2 separate regions of the Homo sapiens genome follow, and region 2 is linked to region 1. The links come from fine-mapping of genetic effects on gene expression. Tissue or cell type: fibroblasts. Region 1 holds a variant in brackets; the other region holds the start of a gene. All regions are shown on one strand. Distances are from middle to middle.

The links. PIP is the estimated chance that this variant, and not a neighbour inherited with it, causes the effect.
Region 2: RC3H1 starts here. The variant in region 1 is fine-mapped to the expression of RC3H1 in fibroblasts (GTEx, PIP 0.96).

The regions. Positions count from the first base shown.
Region 1 is chr1:173,975,933-173,984,196 of GRCh38, forward strand. It overlaps RC3H1 (ring finger and CCCH-type domains 1), which reads right to left. Exons shown (of 20, transcript NM_172071.4): 4 at 7,486-7,725; 5 at 6,795-6,970; 6 at 4,877-5,077; 7 at 2,556-2,688. Among named protein-coding and RNA genes, the nearest start is that of RC3H1, 42 kb to the right of the region's middle. The variant T/TC (reference allele first, on the strand shown) is at 4,186.
Region 2 is chr1:174,017,842-174,025,841 of GRCh38, forward strand. It overlaps RC3H1 (ring finger and CCCH-type domains 1), which reads right to left and starts at 4,516. Exons shown (of 20, transcript NM_172071.4): 1 at 4,255-4,516. RC3H1-DT (RC3H1 divergent transcript) reads left to right here and starts at 4,642. Exons shown (of 2, transcript NR_187284.1): 1 at 4,642-4,799; 2 at 4,942-5,349. RefSeq lists enhancers at 3,142-3,261, 3,326-3,865 and silencers at 4,072-4,391, 4,502-4,751.

The sequences.
Region 1 (8,264 bases):
AATACAGTAAATTTGTGAGTTACATAAATTATATTTGAAGCTATGGGATAGATAAGATTATCTAGGAAACAGATATAGGATTAAACTCTGAGAACACTCCAAAGAGTACAGGATATGAAGATGAGAAAGCAGAGGATGCTGAGGAGAGTCCAATAAAGAAGAGAATTAGTAGCCTAGAAGCCAAGAAAAAAGCATTTCAAGGAAGAGAGAGTACAGAACAATGGCCAGGCATGGTGGCTCATGCCTGTAATCCTAGCACTTTGGGAGGCTGAGGCAGGCGGGTCACCTGAGTTCAGGAGTTTGAGAACAGCCTGGCCAAGATGGTGAAACCCTGTTTCTACTAAAGATACTAAAAATAAATAATAAGAATAATAAGAATAATAAATTAGCTGGATGTGGTGGTACAAGCCTGTAATCCTAGCTACTCGGGACAAGAATTGCTTGAACCAGGCAGAGGTTGCAGTGAACCGAGATCTTGCCATTGCCTCCAGCCTGGGGGACAGAGTGAAACTGTATCTCCAAAAAAAAAAAAAAAGTTAAATGCTGCTAAATCAAGTACAGTAAGAACTGAGAACTGACTTTTGGAATTAGCTACATGGAAGTAATTTATGACCTTGACAAAATAAGTTTGGATAGAGCAGTGGAGATAAATGCCTGACTGGAGTTGAGTTCAAGAGTGTGCCAAAAAAAGAAATGAAGTGGTAGGTAGATGAGAAATGGGGTCAAAAATGGTTTAGGAACTTGTGAAAGTTCTCTTTTGACTGCTCAGGATGATCAAAGGACAGCAGTCAGGGAAAAAAATCACTATATATTCTAGTAACATTGATCTGGTTTACTAAGCAATTTTGGGAGCAAATCTATAAAAGTAGGCTGATAAAAAACTAAGAGGGCTCTGAATGCCATAGTCAAGAGTGTCAAACCTTATTCCGTAAGCAATTCTACAAACAATGAAAGTTTATGAGTGTGGAAGGAAGATCAGGGATGTGATTTCTTTTTTTTTTTTTTTTTGAGACGGAGTCTCGCTCTGTTGCCCAGGCTGGAGTGCAGTGGTGCAGTCTCGGCTCACTGCAAACTCTGCCGCCCGGGTTCACACCACTCTCCTGCCTCAGCCTCCCGAGTAGCTGGGACTACAGGCGCCCGCCACCATGCCCAGCTAATTTTTTTTGTATTTTTAGTAGAGACGGGGTTTCATCGTGCTGGCCAGGATGGTCTCGATCTCCTGACCTCGTGATCCGCCCGCCTCGGCCTCCCAAAGTGCTGGGATTACAGGCGTAAGCCACTGTGTCAGGCCAGGGATGTGATTTCTTTTACAGCAGTAAGTAGACTGGATTGGAGGAACTCATAGTAGAGGAACTTGGAAGACATTCAGTCTCAGGAAAAAGGAGGCTCTCAAAGGAATTAATTATAAGCAGGGGATATAGGGGTATTGTGAAAGAAGAACAGATAAATCCCATTGTATGAAACAGTATGTAGAACAAGTGAAAGGAAAAGATGAGACAAGACAAAACATTAAGGTTTTAAACTTACATACCTCAGAGAATGAGGTCATTATCAGAAAGAGGAAACATTAAAGGAAGAGCAAGTATCAAGAAATGATGAGCTTGCTTTGAAGCACTCAGAGGACACGATGGGGAATCTCAGCAAGCACTGGGAGATGTATCTGGAGTGATGCAGAGATAATAGTGATAGAGATATTTGGGAGTCTGTATTCTACACTAAGGTAATACCTGATGCTAAGAATGAATAACCACCATCAGAGCATGTAGAGAAAACAAAATTCCAAGAGCATAACCTGCCTACTCTTTAGTGGGCAGGAGGGGAAGGCATGGTACAAATAAGACAGAAGTAGCACTCAGGTCAGAAGAGAACTATGAGATCACAGAAAGATATCAAAAAAGTGCTCAACAACATTATCGAAATGCTGAAAACAAATGGGAGTGATTTAAAGACTAAGACAAAGCTTTTGGAATCAGAGACTGGGAATCTACTAGTGAATATTAAGAGAGCTTCAGATCAGTAGTAGGAATAAACACAGAGAAGCTAAAATAACTTAGATGTAAGTGCAAGTTGAAAAATGAAGGTTGGGTATATTTTCAGGTTACGGAGAAGGAGCAGAAAAAGCCTAAGTAAAGATATACAAGACAGGATACTTGAAGGAACAAGATATCATGGAGAGGGCAAAAACAGGATCAAGGAAATGCAACTAAGGATACATAATACAGAAAAAAATGAGAAAAACGAGATTTGGAAGAGGTAAGAATGGTAAAATACAACACAATTTTGTGACGGGAGAAAGAAGAAACATAAAGAAGCCCAGAGAAATCTATTTTCCTGATGAAATGAGCAACAGTATAAAAAGTATTAAATAAATATTAAAGTGAACTAACCTGAGATAAAGAGGGAAAAGATTTAAAATGGAAACTTAAAATACTGTAAAAAAGATCTGGAGTAACTACTTTGGGAAACCCTAGAGGAACAACAAAAGATAATTAAAGAATCATTGAGCAGCACGAAAGGCACATATAAGATAGTCCATTAATTTCCCGTGGGTTTACCTGGACTAGGGTCAATGTTTGCTAACAGCTCCAAATGGGGTCTTAGTCGGTTCAAGTTTGCTGGGTCTCCAGTTCGCTGGAGAGCAATTGTTAGTTCCTGAACACTCTGTGCAAAAGAGGCTGGAGTCTGCAACTTAAAAAAGATAAATGTTAACTTTCCCAAAGGTCAGATAATCCTTTAAATATAAAGATTATTTATATCACAATCATTTTTGCGATTTATTAAATTTAATTTTTATCTTCCCATATACCCTACACTTTGGCCAGAGTAGATTACTTGCTACCCAAATAAATTCTGTACTTCTCTGCATCCAGAGCTTGGCACATTGTGTACTGTATTGCCTCTGCTGTCACATTCTTCAAATGTGAGACCTCTCTCAATTCAGCCTACCATCAATTAGATATACTGATGAGTCTTCTTTGTGAATTGTTAATTCCTGTTTCTCTCCCCATTAATTTACTAGAATTAGTGCTTTCCTCATCGCTTTTAATAAATTCTCTTTTCTATTATCCAATATGGTGACCTTGGCAATATGTGGCTATTTAAATTTAAGTTAATTAAATGAAATAAAAATTTCAGTTCATCCGTTGCAAAAGTCACATTTCAAATGCTTAATGGCCGTGTGTGACTAGTGATCACCATATTGGACAGTGCATACACAGAACATTTTCATGATTACAGAAAGTTCTATTGCTCTATAAAATATCACACACACTGCAAAGTTTACCAGTTTGTTGTGCAAAGGTCTCTGGATATTAAATTTAAAGCACTGCGTGTGATATGAGAAAATTACTGTAGGATATACACCTAGTTACACAGTTCAGTTCAGACAAGATTAACCACCTTGTAGAATCTTTATAAAAGACAAGCCAAGCCAGGCCAGGCACAGTGGCTCACGCCTGTAATCCTAGCACTTTGGGAGGCTGTGGTGGGCAGATGACGATGTCAGGAGTTCGAAACCAGCCTGGCCAACATGGTGAAACCCCGTCTCTACTAAAGATACAAAAAATTTGGGCGTGGTACAGGGTGTGGTAGTGCGTGCCTGTAATCCCAGCTACTTGGGAGGCTGAGGCAGGAGAATCGCTTGAACCTGGGAGACAGAGATTGCAGTGAGCCGAGATAGTGCCATTGCACTCCAGCCTGGGTGACAGGGTGAGACTCTGTCTCAAACAAACAAACAAACAAAAAAAGCCAAGTTTCTCTTCAGAGGTAGAAAGGTACTCCTCTAATAGATCATTACTAAGCGTTAAGCGTTTCCGTAAATTATAAATGAGTTGCAAAACTTCCGATACAAGCTCCTGTCCAAACCTAAGAGTTGCAGGTAAAGTCTGGTTAAAGGTATCCAGGGAAGACTTATAGAGCAGAGCAAACAACCTACATTGTAACTGAAAATTATGTACCGCCTTTTTATCCCCCCTAAAGAGACAGGGTCTCACTCTGTTGCCGAGGTGCTAACATAGCTCACTGCACCCTCAAACTCCTGAGCTCAAGGGATTCTCCCACCATAGCCTCCCAGGTAGCTGAGACTATAGGCGCCTACCACCACACCTGGCTATTTTTTTTTTTTTTTGGTAGAGATGAGTGTCCCAATGTTTCCCAGGCTGTGACTGAACTCCTGGCCTCAAGCAA[T/TC]CCCCCCACCTTGGCCTCTCAAAGTGCTGAGATTACAGGCATCAGCCACTGTGCCCACCCTACACCAAGCATTTAAAAAACATATTTCCCAATTCTCACTGTATTACCCATTCAAGGAATTCTATCTTTAGAAATAGGAAAAAAAAAAAAAAAAAAAAGGTGGGGGGGAATAGTCTGGTAAAAGGTTAGTGTACTCTACACTGAGAATGGTCAAGTTCAAATCCACTTCTGTCATTTATTATCTATGTGATGCTGGAAAAACATATTAACTTCCCTTTGTCTTTGTCTAAAATGGATAATACAGGGCTGTTGAGAGGATTAAATGAATTATTTAAAACCACTAGATACATATTAAGATTTTAGTAAATGTTCATTATTTTTTTTTTAGGTTACTCTTACTATTTGACTCTATTTCTCTAAATTAAATGTAGAGTGGTCTCTAGAGTTGGCCTTCATCTCTGTGATTCTAGTAAAAATACAATAAAATATAAAATAAGTAAAATAAAAAATATAAACTAATCAAATCTTTAAATGAACAAAGTGGTATTATAACGTGATTGGTTATGACATGACACTGGCTATAAATACAATTTACAAAAGCTATACAGTATTCACTTTAATATACATTTGTTAAATGAATTACCAAAATGCCAAGATTAGTCTAAGAAGTAAGGAACAAAAAAGGTCCTACCTTGTCAATAATGGACTGCATATGAGATTTGTGAGACTGGTCTCCATAAAGCAAAGAGGACCACTGGTCCGGTGCAATTCGTAAGCCTGCTTCCATAGCAATCTGCACTATCTGGGAGTCATGTTCTCGCCGCAGAGCTTCATAGGTTCTAAATTCTTCTTTCAGCTGCATCAAAGAAGAGTCTTCATCACGTTTGGTGACCTAATAAGACACAAATAATCTCATAATGAAGTCAAAAAAATGAGTTTATGCTTTATATGAACATATAATTTTTAATGTAACAAATTTAGCATCAACAGCAAGATTAAATGAATATACCATTTGCCTGCAAAATATTTTCTCCTTAACTTGTTGAGGTAGGTATATTGCTATCATCCCATTCTGAGTCAAGTTGGATTTAGGCCAACATTTTCTGGATAGGTCTTTCAGAAAGAATAAATACAGGCTGAGAATCTCTTACCCAAAATGCTTGGGCCAGAAGTGTTATCAGATTTCAGATTTTTTCAAATTTTAGAATATCTGCATTAAACCACTTGAGCATCCTTACTCTGAAAATCTGAAATGCCCCAATGAGCATGTGAGCATCATGTTGGTGTTCAAAAAGTTTTGGATTTTGGATTTTTGTATAGTCAATCTGTATGTGCTGGAATGAAATCCAAAGATTTGACATACTTTAACATATACATTCAGTTTAAGGTGTATGTGTGTGTATATGTATTTTTGAAAAGAAAAAAATACTAATACAATTCTATATTCTGAAAAACAATATGTTTCTTCTCCATAAATGTGGATTATGACTCTTGGGATTGCCTGACAATGAGCTAGGTGGGACTGATGACTGTAGAGCTTCAGATGCTGGTGTAATTCTAAAAATGATTTAATTTGTACTTGGCTTAATTCTTCATGGAGTTTTGTGGGATGGGCTACTACCAGAAAGTGTAAAGTGTGAGATGCTAGACTAGAATAATCATAATGATTATGATTAGAAGGCTGGAGGCAGGAGAATTGCTTGACCCAGAAGGCAGAGGATGCAGTGAGCCAAGACTACACCACTGCACTCCAGCCTGGGCGACAGAGCAAGACTGCATCTCAAAAAAAAAAGTCAGAAAAATAATACTGGATGTACAATAAATGATACATAGTGAGTAGCAATGTTTGAGGCGGTGCTTATTCAATTTGGGATAAGAGACTATGTCCAGCATTACCATATAAACTGAAATGGCAAATGGAACTTCATTATTGTATATGTGGAATTACACTAGGAGAAAATCTCTGAATAAAATTTATTTGGCTGGGCGCGGTGGCTCACGCTTGTAATCCCAGCACTTTGGGAGGCTGAGGCGGGCAGATCACCTGAGGTCAGGAGTTCGAGACCAGCCTGGCCAACATGGCGAAACCCCGTCTCTACCAAAAATACAAAAAGTAGCCAGGTGCAGTGGCCCTGCCTATAATCCCAGCTACTCGGGAGGCTGAGACAGGAGAATCGCTTGAACGCAGGAGGTGGAGGTTGCAGTGAGCCGAGATCATGCACTGCACTCCAGCCTGGGCGACAGCAAGACTTTGTCTCAAAAAAATAAAAATAAATAAATAAAATTTATTTGTGCTTCAATAACTCTCTCTTCAGACCAATTCTGCACAGTCTTGGTAAGAAATTGATATAGTTTCTTAGTCTCTTCAAATACAAAAATCTATAAACCTTGACTTGATCTATGTTGTTCAATATTGAACATACAAAAATTCAATATAATAGTATTTAACTATAATAAGACCCCATCTACATTCTTTAAAAGAATAAAGAAAAATTGCTGAGATTTTCTGAAAAGATACAGGCAACTTTATTAAACTCAAAGTTTTACTACTTAACTTTGGGGAAAGAACAATATTTCCTTTCAAGCTGAGCTTTAATGTAGGTTCATACCTTGAAACAGGAGGCTCTATAAAGGAGCTGAACAACATGCCCAATGCTAGTTTTAGAGGCTTGAGGAAACCGTGGCTCCAATCTTTGCACCACAAACAGAACCAATACTTTTCTTGACAAAGCAGAACCATCTTCTAAGGCCAGCAGAACCAACTTTAAAGCTTCCTCCTGCATTGCTAGGGAAAGTTGGGCAAAACCAAAATTTATCAAGTACATAGATAAGATAAATCCATTTATTAGAAGGGGAATATTTAATCATTTCTGCAGCTATTCAATTAACTGGCAATACAGTTAAGATTAACCAGCAACACACTTTTACACCATTTTTGTGAGCAATTTTGTATTACATTCTATATATTTTATAAAGAAAACAGATAAAGTGATTAATAAATTTAAGAAAAACTTCTATCAAAATGAATGAACTTCCTGCTACAGGTGTGAAAAAAAGGAAAAATCAAAAAATTAAAAAAAGAAACAACTTTTGGCATTAAGAGAAAAGTTTTAAGTTCACTAAGTTCACCTAGTAAGTCCACTAAGTTACATGGAATTGCCCAAGCCATGAACATCAAACAAGATATTAGTTGGTAACAATAAAATACTGCAAAGAACTAGGCTTTGTACATCACTTATAATTCCTACATCATACTTTTAGAATTACCAGCAGAATAAATACCTAAAGTTAATTATGTACCTGGTCCAAGGAACTGGCATCCCCTAGCCCTTACTGCTGCCCAAAGATTGGAAGAGAGTTGCTGAGGATTCTGGTGCTGGAGAATGAGCTCTGTAACTGTTCGTTCACCTAAAGATCGAGCTGCCCTCATGGCACGAATCCTGCCTTCTTCTTCTACTAGTTGACAGTGGACTAGAGTCACAAGCTTCCTCTGCATTGGGCGACTCAGAACACTCTGAGTAGTGCTGTTCAGACCCACTCCTTTAAAAGAGTAAAGAAGTTATTCCTAGGTTCACAATGCAATTTTACAGTCCAGGAGCAATTCTTCTGTTGGGTTAACTTGTGGGTATGTGACTAGTTCTGGGACTACTAGAGTATTTAAAATAAGCAACAAATAAAACCACACATGTAAAGCTTACTTAAGTATACATTTTTAAAGTATACAAATGTATACATGAGTTATCTCATGTGCACTTAGCATTCATTATGACATTAAATATACCATTACTCATTTTAATCATAGAGGAAGAAAGAAAAAAGGACTAGACAACATTGATAATTAGTTTATAATGTAAATCTTGAAGTCCTAAGAGTTCTGGTATATTATTTGACAGTGGTTAACCTTATTTTCCTAATTAAATAGCAAGCCCTTTCTGTGCAGTAATGGCAACTTCCGTATTCATTATACCGCCTATAGCATAGCATATAAAACTGGATAGAAGGCAAACCATTCAGAATTGTCAAATGATGGAAAGCACTGCTGAAGTAAGTAGTTATATTTGCTATTATCATCATTCGAA
Region 2 (8,000 bases), 42 kb after region 1:
TGGAAATTTTTTAGATAAAATGCACTTATAAGTTAAATTATTACCACATGTGCACAGTAATAATCAGTGAAGGTATACCAGTGTCAGTTTAAAACATTGTTATGCCTGTAATCTCAGCACTTTGGGAGGCAGAAGTGGGAGGATCACCTTGCTCCCAGGAGTTTGAGACCACCCTGGGCAACACAGCAAAATGCTATCTCTATAAAAATAATAAAAATTAAAAAAAGTAGCCAGGTAAGGCGGGAATAACACTTAAACCAAGGAGTTTGAGGCTGAAGTGAGCTATGATAATGCCACTGCACTCCAGCCTGGGTGACAGACCATGAGTGACTCTGTCATTCATTCATAATATATACATACAGCATTGCTAAAATGCTTGATAACTGTCAAAAGAATATTGCTCTGACATACATCTGCAAATAAGTAAGGTGACTTTAAATTTGAGGAAAATTCTTTCCCCAAGCCTCAATCAGGAAAACAATATAAACTAATAAGAAGTATCTAATAAACAAAAAGTAAACAAGAATATTATATAAGTAAACAGGCACAATCCTGACCAAAAATGGACAGAAATAAATATGCTAAAGTTAAGTGTCTGGGGGATGTAGGGCAACATTACTTCAGATTGGTAAATGTCACACTTCAAAAATAGAAGGAATCTACCTTAAGAAACTCTGTAGTAAGAAAACCTCCTTTGTATAAATGCCTGACAAAATTAATCTTTTATCATAACCTCTAAAGCTAGTCCAAATCCAGCCTAGATTCCAGAATTACACAAAAGAAAAAATCTTGGAGACGGTTCTGGGAAAAGGCTGACCAAAATCTGTGACTGTTTTGATACAGGCCAATCTGAGAATTTTAATCCCTCTGAACCCAATCCTGCAGAATACCTGAACCCTGAGCACAGACGGGGCCAAAGCTAAACCAGGTCAGAATACCCTGCCAAGGAACATCCTGATCTGAGGTGTTCACCAAACAGGGATCATTTATCAGTTTATTCTTCACTTTGTTGGATGCTGACCATTTTCAAGATATATGCAAGAGTGGACTGATTAGACCCATCAGAATCCATTTCAAGCCCTAAGATCTGGAGATGAAAAATACTGCAGAATTCTAAATTATCTATGGCTTAAAGAAAAAAAATTATAAATTAAGAACTTCAAATATTAGCTGACCCAACTTTAACATCATTGAATATCTTTAATTATTTAAAAAAATTTATAAAGTATTTCAAAGGCACAATTTAGTAATTGCCTATGTAACAAATTAACCATGAAAACAATTACAGCAGTATGATAAATCTGTCCTATGTAAACAGTATGAGTTTTTATATTTTATAGCATTCAGATATGCTAAAAACAAAAATTTAAGTGTTTCTTTTGTGATTCACATGAACAAATACTTTCTTGGTCTTACAAGTAGATATCTGACAGGATACAAATAATGATAATAGGGTAAGTTCACAGGCAAAAAAAGGAATCTGTCAACACAGAAGATGCTTCAAAGTTTAACTGTGACACATGTGGTAGTGGCAAAGAATCTAATTTGTGTCACAAGATCTGAGTCTGAGTAAGCTCTTTTACCTATTAATTATGTGATCTTTTTGCTGGTTACATAGCTACTCTTAGCTTCACATTCTTCATATGAAAAAATGAGGACAACAGAACTAATACTGCAGCATAATGAGGAAGCTTAAATATTTTTATTCATTCAACAAATATGTTCTGAAAGGCGTTGTGTACAAATTACCCTTTTTTATTTCTTCAAATAAATCAAGCATATATTAACTTTTAATATTACCAAGAAAATATAAATCTAATTCTTAAGCTCTGGTTCCAAAACTTCTTAGAAGTAAATTTTTATTACCTGAGAAAATGTGAACTTAAGTAATAAGTATTGATACTGAAGAAGGGACAGTTGAGTTTGTGTCAAAACTTAAAACTGTTTTGACACAAAATAAATAAAAACAATTCCCTAAATTTTTTTCCTATTGAACAGAAATACGGACCCAGACTAAGCCCATAAATTGCTGGGTCAATAACCAATCTGAAATACAAAACCTTACCACTTAAAAATATTTATTTTCAGGAAAATGATATTAAATATGAGGTAAATCTGCCCTTGACATAACACGGTGAGATTGTTTTCATAACACAGCACATGAACCACTTAAAACTTACAACCTATAAATTACTACAATTGTTCTAATAGGTTTAGGGCCATACATAAATTTAAGTATCATTATAACACAGACTTTACTTGGAATCTGTGCTGACCTAACAAAATTAGCACAGAAAAAAAAAAAAAATCACAGATTTGAGCACCTGAAAAACGGTGTCCTTTCTGAAATATCTGCAAAAAAGTCACAACATCAGGAGCCATAGAAAGTTGTTATTTCTCCATCATTCAAAAAATCAAAACATCTCCAACATTATTTATGCTAAGCATAAAATGAAGGTCAGTATTGATATTCATTCACTATACTTCAAATCCTAAACAAGAAAATTCAACCTTTATGTTTATTCAATTGCTAATCTATTCAGTGTCAATTGTTGTGGAAGAACTAAGAACTAGACTAGTGCTGCTTATAATGTTTTTAATTAGAACAGACTTGGACCAATTCTACTTAGAAATTTACCCTTAGAAGAGGTGAAAGATATTAACTGGCATCTTTTCAGCACAGGTCAGTGCTGAAAAGAACACAACCTATAACCCTTAGGCCTTGCAGTTGAATGTTAACAAGTGAAAAGCAATCTCCTTGGATGTATCCAAGCGATTTTAATATAAATTTCTGCATACCTAGGTAGAAAGTACTTTAGAAATAAATCTACCTTTTCCCTCACTTGTAAGAAAATGTGGTAGAAGCCTTGAAAAATTAAGTTTAAGGCTGAGCGAGGTGGCTCACGCCTGTAATCCAAGCACTTTGGGAGGCGGAGGAGGGCAGATGACTTGAGGTCAGGAGTTCCAGACCAGCCTGGCCAACATGGTGAAACCCCGTCTCTACTAAAAATACAAAAATCAGCCGGGCATGGTGGCGGGCGCCTGTAATCCCAGCTACTCCGGATGGTGAGGCAGGAGAATCGCTTGAATCCGGGAGGTGGAGGCTGTAGTGAGCCGAGATTGTGCCACTGCAATCCAGCCTGGGTGACAGAGCAAGACTCCGTCGCAAAACAAAACAAAAACGAAATCAAATTTCAAACTCAGAGAAAAGACTGGTCTTGAACAATTTCAGGAAAAATTACTGAAACACGAGACAAGGCACAAGAAGCTCTATGGCCGGAGATGAACCACCTGTCTCCTTTCGAAGTGCTTCCTGAGGTCCACTTTATGCTAGTTAATGTTGCTTCTTATACTGCATGTTAGTAATTCAAAACGCCTAGCTGGAATAAAAGTCCTCTTTAAACATTACAGTTTGTCTCCGCGTTGCCAGTGTTTGTTTCCAGTTTCATAGGCTATTCTGGTATGTCAAGAGTTGTGTTATTACTGTTCCAAAAGAGCCCTTGTTTCAATCCACTCTCACCTGGGATGCGGGCATAACTGATGTTTATAGAACTGATACTTAGAGATGTTTAGAGAGGCGCATCCCTTACCACTCCATCCTTTACCGATAACCACATTTTATATGTTTTTGTTGCATTTAAGTTTTTTGTTTTTTTTTTTTAAAGACACCTGCACACACACAATTTTCCCATCGCCAGCAGGGAGAAGACTACCAGGCTAGATCTCCAGGGACTTCAGGGAAACAGACACCGTGAAATCCACTTGGCCAAAGAAGGGGAGCGCTTCAGGGGCTGGGGGAGGAAGCAGCCCTGAGGTGCTGGGAGGCCGAGGCGGCGCCTGTTTACAGACGCCTTCGCCCTCCCCCACCCCCACAGACTAGGGGTCCAAAAAGCAGTTCCCGTGCGCATTCCCCGCCTGGCCCAGGCCCTGGGAGTACCACAGGAGCCAGGTAGCCCTTTCGCCCCCTCCCTCTCGTCCGAGCCTCCCTTCGTCCTCCTCTCGGCCTACCTACCCCGACAGGCCCTACAGGCGGCATGCAGAGGCCTGAGGCCTAAAGGACGCCGGCCACTGACAAGCCCCAGAACAGCCGGCGGGGGCCCTGAGGAGCCTGGGGCCGGCCGGGCTGCCGCTGCCGCGGAGGAGCAGAGGGCGGGCGAGGACAAACCCTTCCCGACCACAGCTGCCTATTGTTCCCGACTGAGGCCCCGGCCGCGGCAGCCCCGCTCCCCAAGTCGCCGCCCGCCGCTCGCTCACCGCGCTGGTCCGAGCAGCAGCTCCTCTCAGCTCCGAGTCCCCGCGGCCGTCGCCACCGCCGCGGCAGCCGCCGCCGCCGCCGAGGCCACCGTTGACTCTGATTCTGTCCCAGGCCGCCGGGCCACGGCTGCCGCCGCCACCGCCAGCACCGCCTCCGGCCTCCCACCTGCTGCTGCTGAGGCTGCTCCTGCAGCAGGGGCCATCTTGTTGCTCGGCCTCCTCTTCCTCCTCCTCGTCCTCCGCCGCCCAGTCGCTCGTTGTCCTCGTCCCCTTCCTCTTCCTCAGGCTCCGGCCCGCCCCGGAGACTGGGGCGGAGACGAGGGCGAGGATCCTCCCTCAGGAGGCGGGGCGGGCGGAGGGGAGGGGCGGGCGCGGGAGCAAAGCTCTGAGTCACCGGCCACCAACGCCCGGAGGGAGACCGGCGACGCTCTCCGCCGCGACCGAAAGTCTCACACGCCCTGAGCAGATGAACCGGTCCCTCGGTCCGGTCTGCCCTCCCGCACCGGCGCCTTTGGGCTCAGCGGGCCAGTGGCCAGATGGCGAGAGTAAATTGGGGGAATTTCTTTCGTTTCCATCGAACCCCACACTACGTCTACTCTTTCGGCTTTCTCAGCCGTTGTCCCCCAACTCTTGTTTCTTTTTCACGTCTTGTCCCCCACCCCATTTTTCTTCTTCCATATTATCCAGGTTCTGGATCTCATCAGCTTTGTCCTCGTCACCCCTCTGGGAGTTCAGCCTCCTAAGGCTGTGAAACAGCCCAAAAGGCCCGGACACGCTACTCCAAAACGTCTCTCCTGGGCTGTGTGAACAATAAGAGCTATTTGGGGACGACAGGAAAAGATATGGCCCATAGAAGGGCTCCTGAAATCTAACCTTGCGACTCTTTAAAAGTTTCTTGTCCCTTGTGGAAAAGGTGCCGTTTTGGTTTTGGGGAATGGGAGGTCCCTTCAGACAATTCATTTTAGCCAAACCCTCGCTTTTGAGAAGGGGAAGAAATGGGATTATTGTAACACCATACAGTACTAATTTCAAAATAAATCATCTAGAATAGAGGAGAGAGAGAGTCCCCAAATAAACAACCATTTAATACCTCTACTCGGCGCTATCACCTTTTTTGCTTCAGGATTTGACCAAGAGAGCAGAGATTATGTTTTTCTGTCCTTTCTTCACTGTTTACATCACAGTACCCCAAGAGAAGCACTTCTGCCTTTAACTTGATACATTGGAATCGCTATCACAGATAGTGTTTTTGTATTATTTTTAAGAAATATCACACACCTTCCTAAACTCTTGGCAGAGAAGAATTCTTTTTAGTTGTTAGCACCCTCCTGCTACTGAGATCTCAGCTTCTGTTTAGAAGACCTATTGTTGTCTTTCCACTGATTGGAATTTGCTGCCTCTGAACTGGGTTTAATCTGTAATCGTCTTTTCAGCCTACTAAATAGTAACCCCAGTCCTACAGAGAGTGAATTTCTAGCTACCACAGGGGGATTTAGGTTAGCATGTGCCAATCTAAAGGGATCTCTTAAAGCCTTTCCCTTCTCAGACCAGGCCTCTGTACCCTGCTAGGAAAAACAGATTAATCTGCTCCTCCTGCTTTTCCTCCTCCTCCCTTCTTCTCACTCCTAGGGAACCTTCCACAACAGAAGGTTTTAGCGACTGTTGCTAGGCAAACATGCCAACTTCCTTGTTTAGGTGAAGCGAGTAACTCAACTTCCATTGCAAGTAACCTAGATAATGTAATTTCTTTGAACTATTAATAGTTATACCACAGTTGGTAAGGCTCCTTAAAGGTTCCCTTAAGCAGTATGATTTTTACGTTGTTTATTTTTATCTCGTCAATATTTCAATTAAAAATACGTTAAAGGACAGATAGATGCAGTGGCTCACGCCTGTAATCCCAACATTTTAGGAGGCTGAGGGGGGCGGATCACCTGAGGTCCGGAGCCTGACCAACGTGGAGAAACCCCATCTCTACTAAAAATACAAAAATTAGCCAGGTGTGGTGGCGTGCACCTATAGTCCTAGCTACTCGGGAGGCTGAGGCAGGAGAATCACTTGAACCTGGGAGGTGGAGGTTGTAGTGAGCCGAGATCACGCCATTGCACTCCAGTCTGGGCAAAAAGAGCTAAACTCTGTCTCAAAAAAAAAAAAAAAAAAAAAAAAAAAGTTAAAAATGGCGGCGCTTCCCCAAACCCAAATTCATTTTAGTGATATAAAGATGCATTTGACAGAAAAAGAAGAGCAGCTTTGAAGAAAACACTTATGCTTACAATAAAAAATAAAAAACTAATCTGTGAGAAGTCATATGTTTTCAACTCCCCAGTCAGACTAGAAGTGTAAGATACAGGGGATAAGGCCGGGAGCGGTGGCTCACGCTTGTAATCCCAGCACTTTGGGAGGCCGAGGCAGGCAGATCACGAGGTCAGGAGATGCAGACTATTCTGGCCAACATGGTGAAACCCCGTCTCTACCAAAAATACAAAAAGCCCGGCGTGGTGGCGCGCGCCTATAGTCCCAGCTACTCAGGAGACAGAGGCAGGAGAATCACTTGAACCTGAGAGGCAGAGGCTGCAGTGAGCCAAGATTGTACCACTGCACTCCAGCCTGGATGACAGCAAGACTCGGTCTTGGCAGAGCATTGTGGCCCACGCCTGTAATCCCAGCACTTTGGGAGGCTGAGGAGGGTGGCTCTCCTAAGGTCAGGAGTTCAAGACCAGCTTGGCCAACATGGTGAAACCCCGTCTCTACTAAAAATACAAAAAAATTAGCTGGGCGTGGTGGCAGGCACCTGTAATCCCATCTACTAGGGAGGCTGAGGCAGGAGAATCCTTTGAACCTGGGAGGCGGAGGTTGCAGTGAGCCGAGATCGTGCCATTGCACTCCAGCCTGGGCAACAAGAATGAAACTCCGTCTCAAAAAAAACACCAAAAATTAGCTGGGCATGGTGGTGCACGCTTGTAATCCCAGCTACTTGGGAGGCTGAGACAGGAGAATCGCTTGAACCTGGTAGGTGGAGGTTACAGTGAGCCGAGATCACGCCACTGCACTCCAGCCTGGCGACAGAGCAAGACTCCATCTCAAAAAAGAAAAAAAGAAAAAAAAAAGATACAGAGGATAATTTATCTCTTGAAATTGAGTCTATTTAAAATAAAGATAATATGAATATTCAGCAAGGGGGAAAAAAGATATTCTGGGTTTTATTCCTAAATTAACAATTATTTGAAAATTTAGCTAGGGAAATAAGCTTTTTTTAAAAATTTTATTTAAAATGTTTTTACTCTTGTTAGAGTATTGAGATTTGTTGTGAATTAATACAAATAAGATTAAATGAGGCTGAGCATGGCAGCTCATGCCTGTAATCCTAGCATTTTAGGAGGCTGAGGCAGGAGGATTGCTTGAGGCCAAGAGTTCAAGACCACCTGGCCAACATAGAAGACCTTGTCTCCATTTAATTAAAAAAAAATTTTTATAAAAGATTAATGACGCCAGGCAAGGTGGCTCACATCTGTAATCCCAGAACTTTGGGAGGCCGAGGCAGGCGGATCACCTGAGGCCAGGAGTTCGAGCCCAGCCTGGCCAACATGGCAAAGCCCCATCTCTACTAAAAATACAAAAATTGGCTGGATATGGTGGTACATGCCTGTAATCTCAGCTACTCAGGAGGCTGAGGCAGGAGAATTGCTTGAACCCGGGAGACGGAGGTTGCAGTGAGCCGAGATCACGCCACTGCACTCCAGCCTGGG